Homo sapiens: one gene and its partners. The protein of the gene in region 1 purifies or fractionates together with the protein of each later gene. This does not show direct contact. Each region holds a gene or a part of one and is shown in the gene's direction. Other genes may lie near its edges.

Region 1 (3,426 bases):
TGCAGGGGGAAAGTTTGTGGGAAGATGAGAGGGCATCCTGGGCCAATGCAGGGAGGGAAATTATTGGAAAGAACAAGAAGTCTTTATTCACAGTGACAGAGGCAGGTAGACTGAGGGTCAGGGGAGGACCGGCTGAAAATTTCACATCTAGTTATTACCATTTTCTCATTATAATGTCAGTCAAGGGCATCTGCTGAGAGTGGGAAAAACAGAGTAAATGAGGTACTTTTTGGAGAAAGCAGGACTGAAATAATTAAGGTGTGGGATAGCGAGTGCGCTGGAGAAGTAGAGTAACCTAATGAGGAACTGCTGAGTTTTCATTTGAAATCTGTGGTCATAAATTCAATTGCAACCCTCGATAATTGTGAAAGTCACTTCCGCTCTCTGAGCCGTACTTTCCTACCTGTTACACAAGGACAGCACTTGTCCCAAAGCAAGGGTATTGTAATCAGAGATGATAAAATATATAGTGACTGGCACATATTAAGGACTCACCAAATAGCAGACCTCATAATCAGTACAGGTATCATCTGTGGTTCGCAGTTCTCCTCCTTACATTACAACTAGGGTGGACCCAAAACTTTGCAATTTTTGCCTTGTTAATTTGTCCTCACCTGTCATTGCACAATCATCCTTCCTTGTTGCATCAACATTTTTTTTTTTCTGAGACAGAGTCTCGCTCTTTCACCCAGGCTGGAGTGCTGTGGCACGATCTTGGCTCACTGCAACCTCTGCCTCCCAGACTCAAGTGATTCTCCTGCCTCAGCCTCCCAAGTAACTGGGATTACAGGCACCCACCACCATGCCCAGCTAATTTTTGTATTTTTAGTAGAGACAGGGTTTCACCATGTTGGCCAGGCTGGTTTCAAATTCCTGGCCTCAAGTGATCCACCTGTCTTGGCCTCCCAAAGTGCTAGGATTACAGGCGTGAGCCACTGCGCCCAGCCTGTATCAACATTTTAAAATGAATTTGAAATTATGGATAGATCATGTCTTCTAAGTGTCTTGTAGAATGTTTGGAGTGTGGATAGAGAAAATCTGAGTCTGTTGAGGAACTATGGGGTGGAAAAGGGTTAACAGCACAATTCTGTTGTAATCAATCTGGCTGAGCTCCAATTCTGTCTCTACTCTTTCTACCTGGTAACGTTGAACAATTAACGCAGCCCATCTAAGTCTTAACTTCCTCATCTGTACAATGGTTATACTAATTATCAGGCTGCTGCAAAAGTACTTGTGGTTTTTGATATTATTTTCAATGGCAAAAACAGCGTTACTTTTGCACCAACCTAATATCACTAAGATTAATCAATATTCACTGTGTCTCAGGAGTGCTCAGTGTTCACACATATTAACACAGCCCATCCACAGATCCTGTGAGAGGCGTTGATAGGGTTAAAGGAAAAGCTCTTGGTGTGTGGGTAATGTTCATAAGTAGAAACAACTATTGCTATGAGCATCGTTCTTGTCCTGACCTTGAACTTCATAATGGATTGAGCCCCACGACACAGCACACAGCCTGGTGAGGGCCAAGAGTTCCCATTTGTCATAGATATACTCAGTCTAGCCTAAAAGATTTCCACATCTATTCTCACTTAATCCTCACCTGAAAGTTAGACTTCACCATAAAATTGTCCTCGTTCTGCAGAGCAGAAAACTGAGGCTCAAAGAGATATCACTGACTAAAAACTCATAGTGAGGAGACATCACAGATGAGATTAGAAGAGAGATGTAGCTGACTTCAGAGCCCAGTATATATATATATTTTAGACAGAGTCTCGCTCTGTCCCCCAGGCTGGAGTGCAGTGGCACGGCTCACTGCAACCTCCGCCTCCCGGGTTCAAGCGATTCTCCTGCCTCAGCCTCCCGAGTAGCTGGGACTGCAAGTGCATGCCACCAGGCCCGGCTAATTTTTTGTATTTTCGGTAGAGACGGGGCTTCACCGTATTGCCCAGGGTGGTCTGGAACTCCTGACCTCAGGCAATCCACCCCCCTTGGCCTCCCAAAGTGTTGGGATTACAGGCGTGAGCCACCGTATCTGGCTGAGCCCAGTATTCTTTGTAACAGTGACTCTCAATTGGGGGTGACTTTGCCTCCGAGGGGACCTTTGACAATGTTTATGGAACCTGTTGATTGTCATTTCTGGAGAAGGAGTTGCTACTGGTGTCTGTGGATAGAGGCCAGGGGGGCTGCTCAACATCCTACTGTGTCCAGAACAGTCTGCCACAACGAAGAATTACCCAGACCCAGATGTCAAAGGTGCCAAGGTTGAGAAACCCTGAGCTACATTAAATAACGTCCCATGGAATACCTCAGTGAAACTCACTGGTAATAGCAGGAAGAAAAGGAGGAAATAAGGAAAAGGAAGAAGGCTAAAAATCACCAGACTGAGGCATAGCCCTATCCTAGTAATCTTGGGGGAATCCCTTTCAAAGGCAGGACTTCCGTATGCAAAGGCAGTGGCTCTGGAGTTGTTCATCTCGGTTTCCGTATCTTGCTGCCTCCACTGACTGGCTGGGCATGATGTTGAAAAAAACTACAGAAGTCCCCGGGCCATGAATTCCCCCAGATGTGATGGCTGTTTCCCAATGTTATTATGAGCATTAGATGTGAACAAGTGCTATGGAATTGCTATTTCTCTTAAAGATGCTGAATAGCCCAGTCTGAGATGATTCTCAAATTCTCATGGCCATAGCAAATCATCCTGGCTTTTACACATACAGATTCTAGAATGAGATTTATGGATATAATTGTTTTTCATTTTTATTATAAGTTCAGGGGTATATGTGCAGGTTTGTTATACAGGTAAACTTGTATCCTGGTGTTTTCTTGTACAGATTATTTCATCACTGAGATATTAAGCCTAATACCCACTACTTATTTTTCCTGATCCTGTCCCTCCCCTCACCCTCCACCTTCCGGTAGGCCCCAGTGTTCCCCTCTTTGTGTCCATGTGTTCTCATCATTTACCTCCCATTTGTAAATGAGAACATGTGGTATTTGGTTTTCTGTTCCTGCATTAGTTTGCTAAGGATAATGAATACAATTTTAACAGGCAGCCTGGATGTTTCTGATAAAGTCCACAGACCACGGCATAAGAAAATGTGCTCAGGTGACGTGGGACTTTGTGTTGAACTGGATACAAATATTACAGATGTGATCCGGACCAGAGGCAGGGACTACATGTTTTGGGTTTTTGTTCTTAAAAGAAAAAAACAAAAACAAAAAAACTTGATCTGAGAAGCTCTGAAGGGTCATATTCTTACAATGTTATTGTCCACAATTTAGTCACGTGTCCACTACCAAAGCAATCCCTTGCAAAGTAAAAGGGATTCTGGTTAGTGCTAATTAGACTAGTCAGGATTTACTCCCAACATGGAGAAAAGACACCTTCTCTGCAGGGTGAGTAACTAAACACAATTGTGGTTT
Region 2 (3,500 bases), on another chromosome or scaffold:
TCATAGCATCTCTGGAAGTTGATGGTAGAAGAATCCGATTTACTGGGTCAGCTGAAGGTAATGGCTTAGCTGTTGTAATTCTTACGGTGATGCTGGTAGGCAGTGACTTGCATTCTCTGATGTTTCCTGAGAGCACTGGTTGCCTATACCCAGACTTCCAGAGTCAACTCATTTGTTCTTATCCAAGTGAGCAAACTATACCTAATGCCACAAATCTACGATAATACAAAGATTTGGGAGTGTACTTTTTTCTGGCATATATATATAATTATGTTGCTATTGAATAAATAATGCCAAATACACACCAGTCATCCTGCTATGCGGAACTAAGTATGCCTCTTTGAAATGCCAAATGCCTGTATCTTTTGTAGCTTGGGCTCAAATTGATGAAATTAGAAATTACTGTATACATGTAATTCCTCAGGACAGTGAGGAGCTCCTGCCTTGCTTTACTGAATTGTAAATTGAAATTCTTTCCTCAGATCATTAAAGACTTTTACCTTCTGGGACGTGGAGAACTGTTTCAGGCCTTCATTGACACAGCTCAACACATGTTGAAAACACCACCCACTGCAGTAACTGAGCATGGTAATTGTCAGTGGCCCTGAGAATGATCAACTGATTGACATTGCAGGGTATTTCTTGGCTGCTGCTGACCCTTTTAAGGCCTGCTCCACATAAGAGCAGCCTGATGAGTTACAGAGCAGTGGCTTCCAGAGATGGAAGGCTCTTGCAGGTAGGCTTCATGCTGGGGTCATTGGGAACAGTGTCTTGGCCTGTGACCCTTCCTGGAAGAGTTGGTTCAGGCCTTCAAACCAGGTATTTTTTCTCATTGGATTATAGCCATATATACTTTATGGGCCATATTGGGACTTAGTGCTGCTTGTAGTTTTGCAGTAGAATTCTTTAGGTGTGAATGATGGAAACTCACCCGAACTAGCCTAGTTAGGAAAGGGAAATGGATTTGCTATTGTATCTAAAACCCCAGTGGGAAAACTTCGATTCATTCTCTCTCTCTCTCATTCACTCATTCACCACATCTTGTTTGTGTCTCTTGTGAACACTTTGATGACCTTCTGGAAACATGATCACAGCATCTCCCAGGAATATGCCTCACAGTGTCCTCTACGGAAGGAACTGAACCCAGTCCCTCTTGTTGCAAGTTAGAGAATTCTAGGGAATTATCTAGGTTTTGATTGGCCCAGCCCACATCACATCCCTATCCCTGTATCAGTCAAAGAGGTCAGACACTAGGCTATGCCTAGTTCAGTGAAGAGTCTACCCCTTGACCCACTGATGTCCATTCCCATTCATACTGCATGAGTAGAGTTGGGTAAGGATCCAAAAAAAGAAACTGTGAGAAAGAAAATACATACACACAGGCTGATCATTTTTCTAACTCAGTAAAACCATAGATGTCCACTGTACTTATATAGTACAAATATAAGTACTTGTGGTTGCAAATATCAGAAAATCCAATTCAAACTCACTTAAGCAAAGCAAAAGGAAAGAAATAATGTATTGATTCTCATAACTGAAAAGCTCAGACGTATGATGGTTTTCGGCTAAGTTTGATCCAGTGACAGGTGTGGCACCTTTAGGACTTGGTCTCTTTCCATCTTCTACCTCTTTCTTCTCAGACAGGCCTGCTCTGTATGGTAGCAAGATAGTCTCTAGCCAAGTTTACATCCTACTAAGCCCCTGTTTATCTTGAAAAAAGAGCTGGACTCTTTTAGAGTCTGAATAGAGCCTCTGGATTGGCCTGGCTTGGTCATGTTAATATCCCTAAACAATATAGCATAACAAAGTAGAGTATTACATTCCATTTGATCATGCCTACATCACCCAGCTACCCCTAGAATCAGGTGTTGTCTAGCACTAACCCACTGGAAATATGTGAACTGTACTGAATAGGGATGATTCTCCAAGGAAAATCAAGAGGCAGTTTGTCAGCAAGAAGAGAAGGATGGATGGGTGTTAGACAAATGAAACAGATGTCCACTGTGTCCTGCTGTTAGCATTGAGCATGTTGGGGGAGAAGTGGAAAGCTGGAGGAGTCTGGGTTTGTTATGTAGCCAAGCGTCCCTGTCAGCCTGCGTGTTCTTTCTTGCAGATGTGAATGTGGCCTTTCAACAGTCAGCACACAAGGTATTGCTAGATGATGACAACCTTCTCCCTCTGTTGCACTTGACAATCGAGTATCACGGAAAGGAGCACAAAGGTTTGCCATTCCTCCCTGCCACCTTAGAGTTCCTGCTGGTCATCATCCATTTTCCCATCTCTGCTTCCATCCCCCGCCACAGAAACCATATGATTTTGGATCTTAGAAATCAGCTAGTACAGTACTATAATTCTATAGAGAAGAAAAGGAAAGTCCAGAAGTCCAGAGAGGCTAAGTGAGATGCCCAGGCCATGTTTTGGGGGAGTTGGTTTTTTTGGTGTTTTTTTTTGTCATGCTGCTGGAATGGTGCCTGTTTATTTCCAGCCCCCAGATTTTAAGGCTGAGGAAAGAATCTCTAGAAGACCTCCCAAGAGAACCTCACATAGAAGTTTCCTTGCCCCCTTCTTAGTGTCCCCTGTAAGCTTCTGACATCGCAGACTCCATTGAGCTCTGTTGCTTTTCTTTTGGAGACAGAGTCTCACTCTGTTGACCAGGCTGGAGTGCAGTGGCACAATCTTGGCTCACTACAACCTCTGCCTTCCAGGTTCAAACAATTCTCATGCCTCAGCCCCCCTGAGTAGCTGGGACTACAAGTGCGTGCCACCATGCCCAGCTAATTTATGTATTTTTAGTAGAGATGGGGTTTCACTGTATTGCCCAGACTGGTCTTGAACTCCTGTGAGCTCTAGTTTCATTAATGTTATTCACTTGTTGAGTCTCTGGTTCTAGATTAACCAAGTTGTTATCTTTTCTTTTTTTCTTTTCTTTTATCACAGCAGATGCTACTCAGGCAAGAGAAGGGCCTTCTCGGGAAACTTCTCCCCGGGAAGCCCCTGCATCTGGCTGGGCAGCCCTAGGTCTTTCCTACAAAGTACAGTGGCCACTACATATTCTCTTCACCCCAGCTGTCCTGGAAAAGTGAGTATTTCTGAGTTTCTCACAGGTAAATATGACCCACCTTACTTGTAAGGGAAGAAACTAGCAGGAACAGAATTAGTGGGAAAGCAAGGTGTGGTGGCACACACCTGTAATCCCAGCTAGTCCAGAGCCTGAGCAGGAGGATCCCTTAAGCCCAGGATTTCAAATCCATCCTGGGCAACATAGTAAGACCCCCATCTCATAAAAAAAAAAAAAAAAATTAATGGGAGCAAGAGAGCCACCCAACTAGTTTTTAACAATCTGTAAATCAAAAATTGTAAACCCTTATGCCTTCAGGGGCTAGACTGATCACATTAATAAGTGAAGCCACAGATATGAGACACGGAGTTGGAATCAGTGGGAGGGCATATCTACTTCAAACCATCATTTTTTTAAATTGCCAAATAATAAGCAGTTTGTT
Region 3 (3,500 bases), on another chromosome or scaffold:
CTGCCCTGTTCATACCCAACTAGCTACCTAATGTAACACAGTCACTTCTTAAAGGTCCTACCTTTCAATATTTTAATAATATTAATTTAAATATTAATTTCCAAAAAATGAAATTTGGGGGACACATTCAAACCATGGCACCACCTCTTAGCTTCTGTGACATTTCTCTATCCTGGCTTTCCTCTTAACTCTAATGACTTATTCTTAAATTCTTTTGTGTATTCTTCCTTATCAGTTTATCCCTTGTTGGTTTTTCTATGAGGTTGGAGAGAGAGTGTGTGTGTGTGTGTGTGTGTGTGTGTGTGTGTGTTCACACGTGCATATGTGTGTTTTATCCTAGATTCTGAACTTTGTCCCATATTAGATGTATAGCCAACAATTTATTAGATAAATCCATGGTACTTGGATGAACCCAGGCTCCTCAGGTCTTTACACATTTGTCTCCCTTTTTACTGGAATGCTTTTCCTCTCTCCATCTTTCTTTTGCTCTCCCCTTTCTCCTTCCTCACTGTCTTTTATTCACTCTTCAAGGTTTTGCTCCAGTGTCACCTCCTCTGGAAAGCCTTCTCTCTCTCTCTGTTTTTTTTTTTTTTTTTGCAATGGAGTCTTGCTCTGTTGCCCTGGCTGGCATGCAGTGGCGTGATCTTGGTGCGCTGCAATCTCTGCCTTAAGGGTTCAAGCGATTCTCCTGCCTCAGTCTCCCAAGTAGCTGGGACTACAGACGCCAGCTACCACACCCGGCTAATTTTTGTATTTTTAGTAGAGACGGGGTTTCACCATACCGGCCAGGCTGATCTCTACCTGACCTCAGGTGGTCCACCCACCTCGGCCTCCCAAAGTGCTGGGATTTCCACCTCCTGGGTTCAAGCGATTCACATGCCTCAGCCTTCCAAGTAGCTGGGATTACAGGCACCCGCCACCATTCCTGGCTAATTTTTATAATTTTAGTAGAAGTGGGTTTTCGGCATGTTGGCTAGGCTGATCTCGAACGCCTGACCTCAGGTGATCCTGCCTCAGCCTCCCCAGTTGCTGGGGTTACAGATGTGAGCCACTGCACCTGGCCTGGAAAGGCTTCTCTCACTGTCCCTCACAACAATTTGGGTCAGAAGCTTTTCCTGTATACTCCCGTTTCCCTTTATCATTAGCCCTTAATATGGAGTGTCCTAACACTGTATTTACAGAGAGTTTACTTAACTCCCCTACTAGATTGTCTAGATTGTTAGGATTGTTTTTTTTTTTAATTTTTGTGGTTTTTTTTGTAAATGGAGTCTCGCTCTGTCACCCAGGCTCGAGGTCAGTGATGCAATCTTGGCTCACTGCAGCCTCCACCTCCAAGGTTCAAGTGATTCTCCTGCCTCAGCCTCCCAAGTAGCTGGGATTACAGTCGTGCACCACCACGCCCAGCTAATTTTTGTATTTTTAGTAGAGACAGGGTTTCACTGTGTTGACCAGGCTGGTCTCAAACTCCTGACCTTGGGTGACCCACCACCTCAGCCTCTCAAAGTGCTGGCATTACAAGTGTGAGCCACCATGCCCAGCCCAGTTTTTACGAATTTCTACTTTTTGAAAATGCTCTCCTAAAATATATTTTTAAAGGAATATAAGAAGAAAAGAAATACAAATTTTACTTTTTACTGGTTTAGTGCCATATTTTCATTGCTATTTTGAAAATAATATTACATGAAATTATTACCCATTACACTAAAAATTCTTTCCATGCTGGTAGTCATTGGAATTGGCACAATTCTGGAGCAACGTCTTCTCTACTAAAAAGATATTTTCATGTATCAAAATTCTTAATTTCTTGGCATTTAGTCTTTTTAGTCAAAATTCTCAAAAGAAGGATATTAGTAGTGATTAGGTCTACTCAGCATACTATGTTGAGTTTTGAAAAGTACTCTCTTTTCTCCAGATATTTTGAAAACTCTTTAAAGAGTCTTGCTATCAGGCCCAGTGCTGTGACTCACGTGCCTGTAATCCCAGCGCTTTGGGAGGCCAAGTTGGGAGGATTGCTTGAGCCCAAGAGTTCAAGACCAGCCTGGGTAACGATATAAGACCTCGTCTCTACAAAAAAATTTAAAAAGTTATCTGGGTATGGTGGTGCTACTCCCTGTAGTCCCAGCTGCTTGGGAGCCTGAGTTGGGAGGATTTCTTGAGCAAAGGAGTTTGAGGTTACAGTGAGCCAAGATTATGCCACTGTATTCTGGCCTGGGTGACAGAGCCAGACCCTGTCTCAGAAAAAAAAAAAAAAAAAAGTTTTGCTTTCAAACCACTACACATTTAACATTAAAATTGAGTTTTCATTGCTTTTTTGAAAATTAAAATTTTATGTAACATGAAATTATTATTTTCTATTTTAGTAGAGATGACAAATGAAGCTAAAGGTAATACAGGAAGAAAATGAAAACCAGAGTACCTAAAATGAAAGATATTTTAACGGCTAGAACTTTAAATATTATGTATCATTATACTTTTGCATATTATTTCTTATTTTTTTCATAAAGAAAAACGCACCTAAATATTTTCACTTTAAATATCTTTAGGGAATTACCAGGCACGGTGGCTCACACCAACAATCCCAGCACTTTGGGAGGCCAAGGCAGGCAGCTCACCTGAGGTCAGGAGTTAAGAGATCAGCCTGGCCAACATGGTGAAACCGCGTCGCTACTAAAAAAAATATAAAAATTAGCTGTGCCCACGTGGTGGCACATGCCTGTAATCTCAGCTACTTGGGAGGCTGAGGCAGGAGAATCGCTTGAACCTGGGAGGTAGAGGTTGTAGTGACCTGAGATCGCACCATTGCACCCCAGCCTGGGCAACAAGATCAAAACTCCGTCTCAAAAGTAAATAAATAAATAAAATAAAATAAATAAATAAATATCTTTAGGGAACAAAAGGTCATAGTTTTCCTTATTAAATTGTTCTACCACTTATCTATATTTGTTTAAATTTATTTCCTAAAATTTAATAAAAGCCATTAAATAGGAAGATTAGAGATAGAATCTTCCTATGTTGCCCAGACTGGAGTGCAGTGGCTTTTCACAGGTACAGTCATAGTGTGTTACAGCCTCCAACTCCTGGGCTCAAGGGATCCTTCTACTCTAGACTGCTGAGTAGCTGAGATTACAGGCATGGGCCACTTCGCCTGGCTTAGCCTACCACATATGAAAAAAAGTAATCTGGCTGAGTGCGGTGGCTCATGCCACTAATCCCAATATTTTGGGAGGCCAAGGTGGGAGAATTCCTCCCTCCCGCGGCAGGAGGATTGCTTTGAGAGTTGGAGGCGGGAAGTTCAAGACCAGCCTGGGCAACATAGGGAGACCCTGTCTCTACAAAAATAAAAAAATTAGGTGGGCATGGTGGTGCATACCTGTAGTCCTGGCTACTCAAGAGGCTGAGGCAGGAGGATCACTTGGGCCTCAAAGGTCGAGGCTGCACTGAGCCGTGATCGGACCACTGCGCTCCAGCCTGGATGTCAGAGTGAGACCCTGTCTCAAAAA
Region 4 (2,243 bases), on another chromosome or scaffold:
CATTGAAGATTTTTGCGTCTGCTCATCAGGGATATTGGCCTGTCGTTTCTCTTCTTGTCATGTCTTTGGCTTTGGCATTAGGGTAATGCTGGCCTCATAGAATAAGTTTGGAAGTTCCTTCCAAATAAATGTTTTCGTCTTTAATTTTTTTGAAAGCGTTTAAGAAGGATTAGTGTTACTTTGTCTTTAAGTACCTGGTAGGACTCAACTAAAGAAGCCATCTGGTCCTGGGCTGTTTTTTTGTTGGGATGTTTTTGATTACTGATGGAATCTTGTTGTAGGTCTTACCAGGTTGTGTGTTCCCCCCCCGGATTTTCTATTCCTTGATGATTCAGTCTTGGTAGATTGTATACTTCTAGGAATTATATATTTTGTTCTAGGTTATCCAGTTTCTTGGCATATTTTTAAAAATGTTTTGTATATTTTTATTGAAATTCTTACTTTGTTCATGCATTGTTCTCCTGAGTTCGTTGAACATCTTCATGATAGTTGTTTTGCATTCTCTTTCAAATAATTCCTATACCTCTGTTTCACTGGGGTTGGTTTCCAGAGATTTATCTTCTTCCTTTGTTTGGGCCATGTTTCACTGATTCTCTATTTTCCTTAATTCTTTGTGTTGGTTTCATTGCATTAGAAAAAAAAACAGTTACCTTTCCAGTGTTCATGGACTGGCATTGTACAGGAGAACACCCTCATCAATCATTCTGATAGCCTCTCTAACCCACTCTGTATTATGTCTTTTCTGGACTTCTGCATATGTATTCCCAATCAGAGGGATTTGCTGGGTTTTTCCCTCCCCAGGAATTTATAATCTCTTGCTCCCTTTTGTGTTTATCTGCTGTATCATGGGTCTCCTGGAGCCAGTGGCATAGCCCAGCTCTTTTTTTGTTCATACTGGCCCCAGGCACCTAAAATATACTGGTCCCATCTGTGCTTCAAACCATTCCCTACAGAAACCATTCCCTCAGGTAACCTCTTACAAAGTTGGAACATTTTCACAGTCCATCTCTCCTCCCTAGGGAAAAGCTAGGATTTGGGGATGTTGGGGATTCTACCTGCTTACTCTGCACTGAGCTGGGGGAGCGGCTGTAGTGAGCTCATGCTTGCTAGTCCAAACTTCCACTTTGATTTCAGCAACTTCCAACCTGGGCCCTTTGTTTTTAGCTCTCGGACTCAGGCAAGACAGAAAACAGTCTCTCGTGCAGGTTCCAGAAAAGTCAGAATGTTGGATGTACATTCCAGTCATTTCCTTCCCTCTGCAAAAAGAAGCTGGGAGCTGAGGGTTTCCTCTCTATCATGTGGTACTGTGCTGGGTCCATGGGAAGGGAAGAATTATGGCAAGAGGGTGCCTCAGGTTTTTCTGCCGACTTTGATTCAGCTGGTTTCATGCTTTCCTATAGTGCAGAAGACCCTCAACTGGTTTCTGGATTTCCCACAAAGGGAATTTTTCCATGTGTTATTGAATCAGTGTGTCTGTAGAGGGAAGGAGTGTCCAGGGCTTCCTATTCTGTCATCTTGCTGACATCACTTTCTCCAAGGCCTTTTTTTCCCTTAAAACTGAAAAAGACCTTAAATGAATTACAGGAGAAACAATTTACATGATGGACCAGGAATCAAAATGGCATAAGGCTCTTCAACAACATCTTTGGGAGCCAGAACAAAGCCTTTGAATTCTGAGGAAAATCATTTTCAACCTAGAATTCTGTACTCAACTAAACTATCATTATGAGGGTAAAATAAAGATGTTTCTAGTCACACAAGAAGTAAAATAATTGATGTTCTATATGCAGTTTCTGAAGAAAGTAGGGGAAAATGTTCTCCACAAAAATGAGGAAGCTAGGAAAAAGACTTGGGATCTAGGAAATAAAGGGTCCAACACAGAGACAAGAAAAATTCCCAGTATGATGTAAGAAATTCTCAGGTTGGCAGCTGGGCACCAGGCTTGGATGGAGTGGAGAACAGAGAGCATCGGAAAGGATATTTTTAAGAAAAAGGGAAACATCTATAGATTATCTGATGTGATTGATTATATTCAAAAAGGATTTGTAGTTCTGTCAGTTTGTGATACAATAGTGAGAGGTACTTCGCAAATGAAGCAAAAGAAAAATGAAAATTAACTCTAAGGTATAAAATTGCCTAAGAAGGGAAATTTAAGGGTAGTACATTAATTATTTTAATTGAAATGGGATACTGTAAATACTATATTAAATTAAATGTAATTTTATTTTTTACATGATTTTTAA
Region 5 (3,500 bases), on another chromosome or scaffold:
AAGTATTTTCTCTAGTCTGTTTGGGTGACTGGTGGTGCCATTAGCTAAAATAGGGCCTAGAGGAAGAGCAACAATGCAGGAGGAGACTCTAGCAAGGTGAAGACTTTTAGTTTCAGATATTTTGAGATTGCCAAAAATTTGGTAGAGAGAAGTGATATTGATAGGGCATTGATTGATTGGCTACAGTCATTCTCTTCATTCCTAGGATGATATTAATCCATCATCAAAATCTACATGCTTGAATCAGATTTACACTGAGTTTTAGTGTTTGTGCCTGCTGTTTTTATCAAGGGAAATAGGTATATGCTGTAGGTGTCTTTGGATGTGGTTCTCTTAATATCCGTTTATATGAACTTGCTCATGAGAAATCTCTGTGGGGCCAGATGCTAGATTTCTTCCTGTTAAGCAACAGTAATAACTGCCTGAATGCTTTGCTCTGTTCACATTGTCAGGAAACTGACACTCATGGGCACATTGTCAGAGTCATTCTCTGGAAACATTTGTATTGGCTGTAAGGTCCATCTCTTCACCCTACATCTTGACCCCCCACCTTGATTTTCATCTTATGTAACTCTTTGTAAAAGGGTTGTAAGAGTATAAATAATTTAAAAGAATTGCCAGTAGTTATTTCTAGTGCCAGGCATATGGCTTCGCATATAGGGGGGATGCTGAGTAGATGTCATCATGATACAAAGAATCAAATGGCAGATGTCTCCAAAAATGGAAAGTCAGAGGGTTTCGAGAGTCTACTTCAGGATTTATCCTGACTAAAAGAAATAACAAATCTGTTTCTCATTTCTTGTTGTCATTATTGTTGATACTGTAGCTTGCAAACCATACTGGGTACATCAAAGTTGACTGGCAACGAGTGGAGAAGGACATGAAGAAAGCCAAAGAGCAGCTGAAGATCCGTAAGAGCAATCAGATACCTACTGAGGTCAGGAGCAAAGCTGAGGAGGTGAGACTTGCATTGTTCACGTGTAGTGTGTGAACAGTGCAGACAAAAACAGGGCTTAACCCTATTGTACCATATCTCAGTGATGGACAGGGCTTAAGCATTACAAAGAACTTAGAGTAATGAGACAAAACTAACTTGGATTATCATCACTTCAGAACATTTTTAAAAGCTGGATAATTGTTTGGTGACCTTTGTCTGTGCACATTTGTGGAGTGATTATCCCTTTAACCAGTTCTTGTAGGAATGTGGGGCAGCATAGTAGGTGGGAAGGATATATGGCCAGTATAATTATTTTGAGTCCCATTTTGTCGCTATACACGCATATCTCTGAAACATTCATACTCTGCTTGTTCTGCATATAACTAGTGGAAATGTCACAAGTATTCAACTCCACTGTATATCATCAAAATAGCCATAGATGATATGTTAAATAAGTGGATGTGGCTGTGTTGCAATAAAACTTTATTTAAAAACAGGTTCAGATTGGATTTGGCCCATGGGCTGTAGTTTGCTAACCCCTGATCTTGTTCATTAAAGCCAAGTTAGATTATGACCTGGCACTGCAGGGACAGGAGAAGTCCTTCCTTTTTAAAAGGATATTTTTTGCTGCTGCTTTATTACCTTTAGAAATATGTCAGATGTTGCAAATAAATAAGTACACTGAACTGGGGAGAAATAAACAAGGATCAGGGTGTCAAGAAGATAGCTGGTACTTTCTGTAGCCTGGAGTGATGAGAGATTCTCCCATTAGCTCACTCTAGCCTCACAGGGAAAACAGACAGATTGAGTGCAGGGGAGGAGAAATACCCTGTGTGCGCCTCAGGCTTCTCATGTTGTGAGTGGCTCTTCGTGCTGGTGATTGGCAAGTGGCTGGTCAAAGCTGGTGCCTTTACCCAGAGTGGGAAGGTGGCAGAGATGGGTATCTACAGGAGCCCAGAGCCCAGATAGTTTCTCTTTCCTTTCTTCCTTCTGTCTCTCCTCAAAGTTAGGAAAGTTACATTTTTTATTTCATGAAAACTTTATTATTCAAATGTTTATAAAAATAATGCATGGCTGGGCACAGTGACTCACCACAGTGAGTAAAAAAAAATTTTGTAAGAGAGGTCTCACTCTGTTGCCCAGGCTGGAGTGCAGTGGCACAGTCATGGCTCACTGTTGCCTCAACCAAGCGATCCTCTGACCTCAGCCTTCTGAGTAGCTGGGTCTATAGGTGTGTACCACCACACCCGGTGAAGTTTTAAATTTTTTGGAGAGACAGGGTCTCCCTGTGTTGTCCTGGCTGGTCTCAAACTTCTGGGCTCAAGCAGTATTCCCACCTCGGCCTCCCAAAGTGCTGGCATTACAGGTGTGAGCCATGGCACCTTGCTGAAAACTTTAAAAATAATACTGGAAGTGTATATAATAAAAAGCATAAAGTTAATATTTGATTAGAACCAACTGTTGACTCACAGAGGGAGTTTGTTATAAAGTAACCAGATAATTTGGAATTGAGTTCACTGTCACAGGCCCTGGGGATGTAGTGGCTGGTTTTCCTACTCATAGAGCCGGTGGTCTGATTTGAGAAACAGGATGAAGATTTAGTTCAGTATTTACCAACAAGATGACTTCAGTGAGAACAGTTTGGTGGGGTGGTGGAGTTGAAAGCCAAATTAGCAAGTTGAAGAAAGAGTAGTAAAAATAATAAACGAAACCAATTTTCTCAGGAAGTTGTATGATTTTTTTTCTTCACCCCAATGGCAGATGACAAAAGTGCTTCATTTAAGGAAATGTAGAGGTCCAGGAGAGATGGAGGAGGAGTGGAAATGAGGCAGGAAGACATAGGCATCGTTGGAGTAAGGGCTTACTGGAGGGTTAGAAGACAGTGGTCCTAGGAGGATGGGGTTGGTAGTGTGAAAAATGTTAGGGGAATGTCAGGGTGTGAGTAGCTTAGGTGGTTTGGGGATGGAAGTCACCGTACTTGAGTTCAAGAAATGATCAGGCCAGGATGTTGGATGTCTTGTTCATATGAACACTTTCTAAGGTGGTGATCACACTTAGGAGAAAGAGGAAGTCTGAGCCACTTATCAAAATTGTCTCTGAAATTGGAAGGGTGGGGAGTGGTCAGGAGATTGGTAGAGCACAGACTAAGGAGCCATAAAGAGTGTCTGAATGTATGCACTGAGTCTCAGATGACCGGGAGCTATTCCAGGAGGGTAGAGGGGAGGTGGGAAGCTTTGGGAACTTAAGGAAATAAGAACGTCACCTGTTAATCATCTTAGATGTGGTGAAGTGTGAGAATGAGAATTTATAGCATCTACCTGGGAGCAGGTTTCAGGGGGGAATGCATGGATGGAGAGATTTAGGGGAGAGACTTCAGGAAATGAGAAGCCTCTATTGGAGGGTAGATGCCAAAGAGGATGGAAGGAGCAAAATTGGAAACAGAATTGCCTCTGTAACCAGTTTATTTAGTGCAGCTTTACTCTTTCGCCATAACTGTCCCCATGAACTCTCCTTCTTTGTCCTTGATTCAAAGAGCCATTGTCTCTACCTCCTGATGTGCATC
Region 6 (3,500 bases), 6.3 Mb from region 1:
GACGTGATATCACATCTGGCTAGACGTGATAAACTCCGCTTTTTAAAAAAATTTCCCCGGCCGGGCGCGGTGGCTCATGCCTGTAATCCCAGCCCTTTGGGAGGCCGAGGCGGGCGGATCACTTGAGGTGAGGAGTTCGAGATCAGCCTGGCCAACATGGTGAAACCCCGTCTGTACTCGGGAGGCTGAGGCAGGAGAATCGCTTGAACCTGGAAGGCAGAGGTTGCAGTGAGCCAAGATCGCGCCACTGCACTCCAGCCTGGGCGACAGAGCGAGACTCCGTCTCAAAAAATAAAAATAAAATAAAATAATCCTCCCTCTTCTGGAGTGCTCCTCCTAGTGGCTGATTTTGGACAGGCCAAATCCCTGAAAAAATACAGTTCTCTCCTTATTTAGATGTGGCCGTAGAATATTTATAAGTAAACTCTGTGCCTTTTAAAAACTCTTCTTTTTGGCCGGGCGCAGTGGCTCATGCCTGTAATCCTAAACACTTTGGGAGGCCGAGGCGGGAGGATCCTTTGAAGCCAAGAGTGCAAGACCAGCCTGGGCAACATAGGGAGACTCGATCTCTATTTGAAAAAACAAACAAAAACCCTCTTTTTCCTGACCACATCTATTGGCCAGTTGTAAAATGACCCAGCCTTACTTTAAAATATGCTCCGCCTCCAGGAACAGCTATGGAATGGTTAAAGACATCATTGCTTTTGGCTGTTTACAAGACGGTTCCAATTTTGGAATTGTCCCCACCTCTGTGGACAGCCATTGGCTGGGTCCAAAGGGGCCCCACCCCCCCTACTCCTGTCCTCCGGGTTCTACTGAAGTGGGCAAAATCCCCGAGAAGCAGCGGTGTCCCCAGCCTCTCACTCGGAGCCGATATGGGGAGTAAAGGTGGGCTTGCGGAACGGGCTGGACGGGGGCTGAGGTCGGCGGAACGGGGTCCAAACTCGCCCTTATCTCCTGCACATCCGGAGCATTTTTATTACTGATCTGCTTCCGCAGCGCTGCAGGCTGGGGCTAGGGGGCCGAGGGGCAGTATAGGGAGGACCCAGAGGGAGCATGGGGTCCCTTCTCCTTCGAGCCAGCACTTTGGGGCCCAGGAGCAGGGAGGACCCCCTCCCCCAGCCTCGGCCCCAGGCAGCGCTGTCACTCAGGGGCCAGACGGGCCAGAACAGCTGCGGGGAGGCCCCCTCCCCCCAGCGTGCCTAAACTTAGCCCCCGCCTCAGGCGACCTGGCCCCTCCCCCATCCACCGGCGCCGGCCACTAGGAGCCTGCCTGGGAGGGCCCTGCTATGGGGAGGGAGGGGCTGCCCTATTTGGAGGTAAATGAGAGGAGATGCATTGGAAGGAGACGGAAGTGAGGGGTGAGCCTCTAAGAGGGACCGGTCGGAGGGGTCAGTTGGAGGGAGTGTGGGAGGATAGAGAGGATCTGGAAAGAAATAGAAAGGTACTGAGTTCCTGGTTTTCAGGACTCAAAGGAAAGCAGATTACTAAAGTTTCTTTTTCTTTTTAAGCCACAGAGTCTCCCTCTGTCGCCCTTTCTGGAGTGCAGTGGTGGGATCATAGCTCACTGCAGCCTCCAACACCTGGGCACAAGTGATCCTCCCACCTCAGCCTCCCAAGTAGTTGGGACTAGAGCCACAGGCCACCACGCCCTGCTAATTTTCTTATTTTGTTTGTAGAGACAGGGTCTCACTATGTTGTCCAGGCCTCAGGTGATCCTCCCGCCTCGGCCTCCCAAAGTGTTGTGATTACAGGAGTGAGCCTAAAGTTTAGACAGATGAGATGAAGGTTGGGGTACAAAGGTCACTGGTCAGGGCTGAGGTTGGGTTTAGGAGGTGTGTTTTAGGGTCTCAGAAAGGGGTCAGAAATTTGAGTTAGGCCCTGGAAAGGAGTATGGCGTGATTAATACATTTAGGACTTAGAAACATGTGTTGCTAAGGGTATCAAGGGGATATCACTTTACACCTGACAGATTGGCAAAAGTTAAAAAGAACTGCAACCCACTGCAGGGCAGGATGCTGGGAAAAGATCTTTCTCTTGCTTCTTGTGGAAATAAGAACTGTTATGGTCTTACTAGTAAGCAGTGTTTCAAAATTTATGACATTAAAAAAATATATATGACCGAGCGCGGTGGCTCATGCCTGTAATCCCAACACTTTGGGAGGCCGAGGTGGGAGGATCACTTGAAGCCAGGAATTCAACCTGGGCAACATAGCGAGACCCTATCTCTACAAAACATTTAAAAATTAGCCAGGTTTAGGAGGTCGAGGTGGGCAGATCACAAGGTCAGGAGATCGAGACCATCCTGGCTAACATGGTGAAACCCCGTCTCTACTAAAATACAAAAAATTAGCCGGGCATGGTGACGGGCGCCTGTAGTCCCAGCTACTCGGGAGGCTGAGGCAGGAGAATGGCGTGAACCCGGGAGGCAGAGCTTGCAGTGAGCTGAGATCGCGCCACTGCACTCCAGCTTGGGCAACAGAGCGAGATTCTGCCTCAAAAAAAAAAAAAAAAATTAGCCAGGCCAGGCATGGCAGCTCATGCCTGTGATCCCAGCTAGTTGGGAGGCTGAGGCACAAGAATCTCTTGAACTCGGGAGGCAGAGGCTGCAGTGAGCTGAGATCATGCCACTGTACTCCAGCCTGGGTGACAGAGGAAGACTTTGTCCAAAAAAAAAAAAAAAAAAATTAGCACGATATCGTGGTGCCACCTGTAGTCCCAGCTGCTAGGAGGCCGAGGTAGGAGGTTTGCTTGACTCTGGGAGGTAGAGGCTGTAGTGAGCCATGATCACGCCACTGCACTCCAGCCAGGGTGACAGAGTGAGACTCTGCCTCTAAAAATAAAAAAAAAAAAAATGTGGCCGGGCGTGGTGGCTCACGCCTGTAATCCCAGCACTTTTGGAGGCCAAGGTGGGTGGATCACCTGAGGTCAGGAGATCAAGACCATCCTGGCTAACACGGTGAAACCCCATCTCTAACTAAAAATAACAAAAAATTAGCCAGGCATGATGGCACATGCCTGTAATCCCAGCTACTCGGGAGGCTGAGGCAGGAGAATCGCTTGAACCCGGGAGGTGGAGGTTGCAGTGAGCCGAGATTGCACAATTGCACTCCAGCCTGGGCAACAAGAGCGAAACTCTGTCTCAAAAAAAAAAACAAACAAACAAACCAAGGTCAGGCGTGGTGTCTCACGCTTGTAATCCCAACACTTTGGGAGGCCGAGGTGGGAGGATTACTTGAGGTCAGGAGTTCGAGACCAGCCTGGCCAACATGGTGAAACCCCATCTCTACCAAAATATAAAAAATTAGCCGGGTGTGGTGGAGCCCTCCTGTAATCTCAGCTACTCAGGAGGCTGAGGCAGGAGAATTGCTTGAACCCAGGAAGCGGAGGTTGCAGTGAGCCAAGATTGTGCCATTGCACTCCAGCCTAGGCAATAGAGCGAGAATCCGTCTCAAAAAAAATAAAAACAAAAACAAAACACACACACACACACACACACA
Region 7 (3,500 bases), on another chromosome or scaffold:
CACTGCAAGCTCTGCCTCCCCGGTTCATGCCATTCTCCTGCCTCAGCCTCCTGAGTAGCTGGGACTACAGGTGCCCGCCACCACGCCCTGCTAATTTTTTGTATTTTTAGTAGAGACAGGGTTTCACCCTGTTGGCCAGGATGGTTTTGATCTCCTGACCTCGTGATCCGCCCGTCTCGGCCTCCCAAAGTGCTGGGACTACAGGCGCGAGCCACCGTGGCTGGCCTGTAGTATCTATTTTTTCATTGAAAACACTGTTTTAACAGCCTAGATGTATGCCTACCTGTTATTAGAAGAATAAGCTTAATATTCCAAGTGTCTAGGTTTCTTTAGTCATAGCTTGTTATTCCCAATTTTATTACATTTTGCTTGAGAGGTCCTGGTACATACAGGTAATTACATACAGGTAATTGTTTTTGCATTTACTTTCCTCATGGCCTTGTGTTTGATTAGTTATGACAAAAGGCACCCACACTTTTTATGAGTTATTTCCGGAACTCACAATTTAGGATGGTCTAACATAGAATCTCGGTTGTTTTTTTTGTTTGTTTTTTGGGGTTTTTCTTGAGATGGAGTCTAACTCTGTCGCCCAGGCTGGAGTGCAGTGGTGCAATCTTGGCTCACTGTTACTTCCGCCTGCTTGATTCAAGTGATTCTCCTTCCTCAGCCACCCAAGCTGGGCAGTCACCACCATACCCGGCTAATTTTTGTGTTTTTAGTAGAGATCAGGTTTCACCATGTTGGCCAGGCTGGTCTTGAACTCCTGACCTCAAGTGATCTGCCCACCTCGGCCTCCCAAAGTGCTGGGATTACAGGTGTGAGCCACCGTCCCTGGCTGGAATGTCAGTTTTTAATGTTCTTATAGGATATTAATGTTTTGGGCCTGTCTTTGGGAGTCCAGTACTTATGACTGTTCAAGGGCTACAGCCAGTGTGAAAACTCTGATACCGTGCCCGTCATCAGCATATCCAGCAGCAGGAGGGTTGTGGGAGGGGTGGTGGCGCGGCTTCCTCTCATGCAGATCTGGAAACAGGTATGCTCGTTCGCTACACTGAAGGGGGGGCCCTAACTTTGAATATATTTCAAAGGATTGTCAATCAAAGGATTTGGGAGCAGTAAGGGGTATTGGTGACTGCTGTACGGAAGATTGCTCAGAAAAAAGAAAGACTTTGTTGAACTAGACAGCTCATATTTTAGGTCATCTCAGCCAATCTGGTTCATAAAGAAAAATTACCCCAAAGGAGCATTTATTTTAGTTGTTTTTAGCTTAAGTATTTGGTTTATGTACTTAGTCAAATTTAAAATGTTTCCTTTTCATGATGAACTTTGGCATTCTCATTGTGGGAGGTGAGTTTCTGTGCACAGAGCCCCAGTGGACAGCATTTTACCTGTAGGGAATAAAGGGGCCCAACTTTTCATTTGAGGAAAACTTTTTTGTTTGTTTGTTTCGAGATGGAGTCTCACTCTGTCGCCCAGGCTGGAGCGCAGTGGCATGATCTCGGCTCACTGTAACTTCCTCCTCCCGGGTTCAAGCAGTTCTGTGCCTCAGCCTCCCAAGTAGCTGGGATTACATGTGCCCACCACCATGCCCAGCTAATTTTTGTATTTTTAATAGAGACGAGGTTTCACCATCTTGGCCAGACTGGTCTTGAACTCCTGACCACCTGCCTTGGCCTCCCAAAGTGCTGGGATTATAGGCATGAGCCACCGCGCCCGGCTGAGGAAAACATTTTTTAAACTTAATGCCACATTGGCTTAATTTGGTAACTTAATATAGCAGCAATATCAACTTAATACGGTACCAGTATGAAACTTTCTTTTTTAGAGAGATTGTTTCCTTATCGTAGGGCATTTAGGAATCCTACTGCTTCTCCATTTCTTCAGTTTTCAGTCATATTTCTTGTGTACGTTTTGTTGATTTGTAATTCACACTACACATTTATATATATTTATTCAATAGTTTTAAAATTATTTTATATGCCTTTTATCACAATATGGTGCCATTCTTGTATGTGTTCCGTTTCAGTGGTTCATTTGTTTTCTTCTGCTTGGTTCCTTTTTTACTTTGCAAAACTTTGTTGAGCTCAGATTACACTGCAGTGGAGTAGGAGGGAATTCCCCATTCTTTCTCAAACTTAGGCTAATTTGTGCTGCTATTGTTGGGTATTTTCTTAGTATCCAGACTTTTTTTTTTTTTTCTATTTTAAAGGGATTTCTTCAAAAGTTGCCACCCCCAGAAGTTTTATATTTCTTTTTCTTTTGGCTTAAAATCATGTTCTTTTTAGAATATAAGCTGTGTCCTTGGGTTTGTGTGTATCTGAGTTCCCTGTAATATAAGTGTAGTCTATTGCAGTTGTTTTGATATTTTGTCTTTCGCAGGATGCACACGGTTGGTTTAGCCTGATATGAAGTCCACTCACTCGGTCTGTGGCCAGACCCCCCATGCCTGGCCTTTGTCTACTTCTGCAGGGTTATCTCTGATTGCAGGCACACACCTACCACATCATGTGGCATTTTACATTATTTTGTTAAATGTCTGCGTCTTCACCTAGGGACGGTCATTTAGTTCATCTGTGAATCCTTTGAATCACAGTACATAGAACATAGTAGGTGCTTAGTATATACTTGCTATGTGGACACTCAACAGAGTTGTGTTGGACTTTTCTTTCCTCAAATGTAAGAGACCAGGCAACATAATGGTTACAAATTAAGTTAGAAGATGGAGGAGTGCTCCCTCTATTGTCATTTGAGAAGCCATTTTTCCAAGCTTGGAGGGTATCTCTTTAAAAAAAATTTTTTTTTTAATTGATGTAAAGGTTTTTGAAAGCTGAGTTTTGTCTCCAGTGGATTGTAAGCTTTTGAGGCCAAGGCCATGTCTTAGTGCCACCTCTGTTTCATCTCCTTTGTCCCTACACAGGTAGTAGGTCCTCCATTCTTGCTGATTATGAATAAAGCAAAGAAATACATGTACCTCTGCTGTATGAATTAGAAGCTTTGTGTTTGTTATTATTAGACTAGGAGCATGTTACAGGCACAGAGCATATTGTGTTTATCTCTGTAGCCACAGCATGTAGTGTAGTACCTGAATTTTAGTGGGAATTTGGTAACTTCTGGTAGTTATGTTGATTAGTCTCCTTGGAAGAAAGTAACTTTATAAGCTACGGATGTTAAATGGTGAGATCATAAATTGGCTGAATCTCCAGGCATGGTGGCTCACACCTGTAATCCCAGCACTTTGGGAGGCCAAGGGTGGCGGATCACCTGAGGTCAGGAGTTTGAGACCATCCTGGCTAACGCGGTGAAACCCTGTCTCTACTAAAAATACAAAAAATTAGCCGGGCGAGGTGGCGGGCGCCTGTAGTCCCAGCTACTCCGGAGGCTGAGGCAGGAGAATGGCGTGAACCCCAGGGGGCGGAGCCTGCAGTGAGCCGAGATTGCGCCACTGCACTCCAGCCTGGGCGACAGCGAGACTCCGTCTCAAAAAAAAAAAAAAAAATTAG

Evidence for each region.
Region 2: the proteins of FPR2 (region 1) and TUBGCP4 purify together in Homo sapiens (affinity purification with mass spectrometry; 2 studies listed by BioGRID and IntAct, with this or other methods). This does not show direct contact.
Region 3: the proteins of FPR2 (region 1) and MFSD8 purify together in Homo sapiens (affinity purification with mass spectrometry; 2 studies listed by BioGRID and IntAct, with this or other methods). This does not show direct contact.
Region 4: the proteins of FPR2 (region 1) and TMEM87A purify together in Homo sapiens (co-immunoprecipitation; 2 studies listed by BioGRID and IntAct, with this or other methods). This does not show direct contact.
Region 5: the proteins of FPR2 (region 1) and FUNDC2 purify together in Homo sapiens (affinity purification with mass spectrometry; 2 studies listed by BioGRID and IntAct, with this or other methods). This does not show direct contact.
Region 6: the proteins of FPR2 (region 1) and RTN2 purify together in Homo sapiens (affinity purification with mass spectrometry; 2 studies listed by BioGRID and IntAct, with this or other methods). This does not show direct contact.
Region 7: the proteins of FPR2 (region 1) and HSDL1 purify together in Homo sapiens (affinity purification with mass spectrometry; 2 studies listed by BioGRID and IntAct, with this or other methods). This does not show direct contact.

The regions. Positions count from the first base shown.
Region 1 is NC_000019.10:51,764,180-51,767,605, forward strand, and holds part of FPR2 (N-formyl peptide receptor 2), read left to right. Parts: intron 1-3,426. UniProt on the Homo sapiens protein: Low affinity receptor for N-formyl-methionyl peptides, which are powerful neutrophil chemotactic factors. Binding of FMLP to the receptor causes activation of neutrophils.
Region 2 is NC_000015.10:43,395,101-43,398,600, forward strand, and holds part of TUBGCP4 (gamma-tubulin complex component 4), read left to right. Parts: intron 1-6; coding exon 7-57; intron 58-482; coding exon 483-588; intron 589-2,113; coding exon 2,114-2,221; intron 2,222-2,937; coding exon of another isoform or gene 2,938-2,940; coding exon 2,941-3,079; intron 3,080-3,500. UniProt on the Homo sapiens protein: Component of the gamma-tubulin ring complex (gTuRC) which mediates microtubule nucleation.
Region 3 is NC_000004.12:127,944,674-127,948,173, reverse strand, and holds part of MFSD8 (major facilitator superfamily domain-containing protein 8), read left to right. Parts: intron 1-3,500. UniProt on the Homo sapiens protein: Outward-rectifying chloride channel involved in endolysosomal chloride homeostasis, membrane fusion and function. Conducts chloride currents up to hundreds of picoamperes.
Region 4 is NC_000015.10:42,212,191-42,214,433, reverse strand, and holds part of TMEM87A (transmembrane protein 87A isoform 1 precursor), read left to right. Parts: intron 1-2,243. UniProt on the Homo sapiens protein: Potential monoatomic ion channel gated by mechanical force, implicated in normal touch sensitivity through the generation of mechanically activated currents.
Region 5 is NC_000023.11:155,050,844-155,054,343, forward strand, and holds part of FUNDC2 (FUN14 domain-containing protein 2), read left to right. Parts: intron 1-826; coding exon 827-958; intron 959-3,500. UniProt on the Homo sapiens protein: Binds directly and specifically 1,2-Diacyl-sn-glycero-3-phospho-(1'-myo-inositol-3',4',5'-bisphosphate) (PIP3) leading to the recruitment of PIP3 to mitochondria and may play a role in the regulation of the platelet activation via AKT/GSK3B/cGMP signaling pathways.
Region 6 is NC_000019.10:45,490,548-45,494,047, reverse strand, and holds part of RTN2 (reticulon-2), read left to right. Parts: intron 1-669; coding exon 670-888; intron 889-3,500. UniProt on the Homo sapiens protein: Inhibits amyloid precursor protein processing, probably by blocking BACE1 activity. Enhances trafficking of the glutamate transporter SLC1A1/EAAC1 from the endoplasmic reticulum to the cell surface.
Region 7 is NC_000016.10:84,131,678-84,135,177, reverse strand, and holds part of HSDL1 (inactive hydroxysteroid dehydrogenase-like protein 1), read left to right. Parts: intron 1-3,500.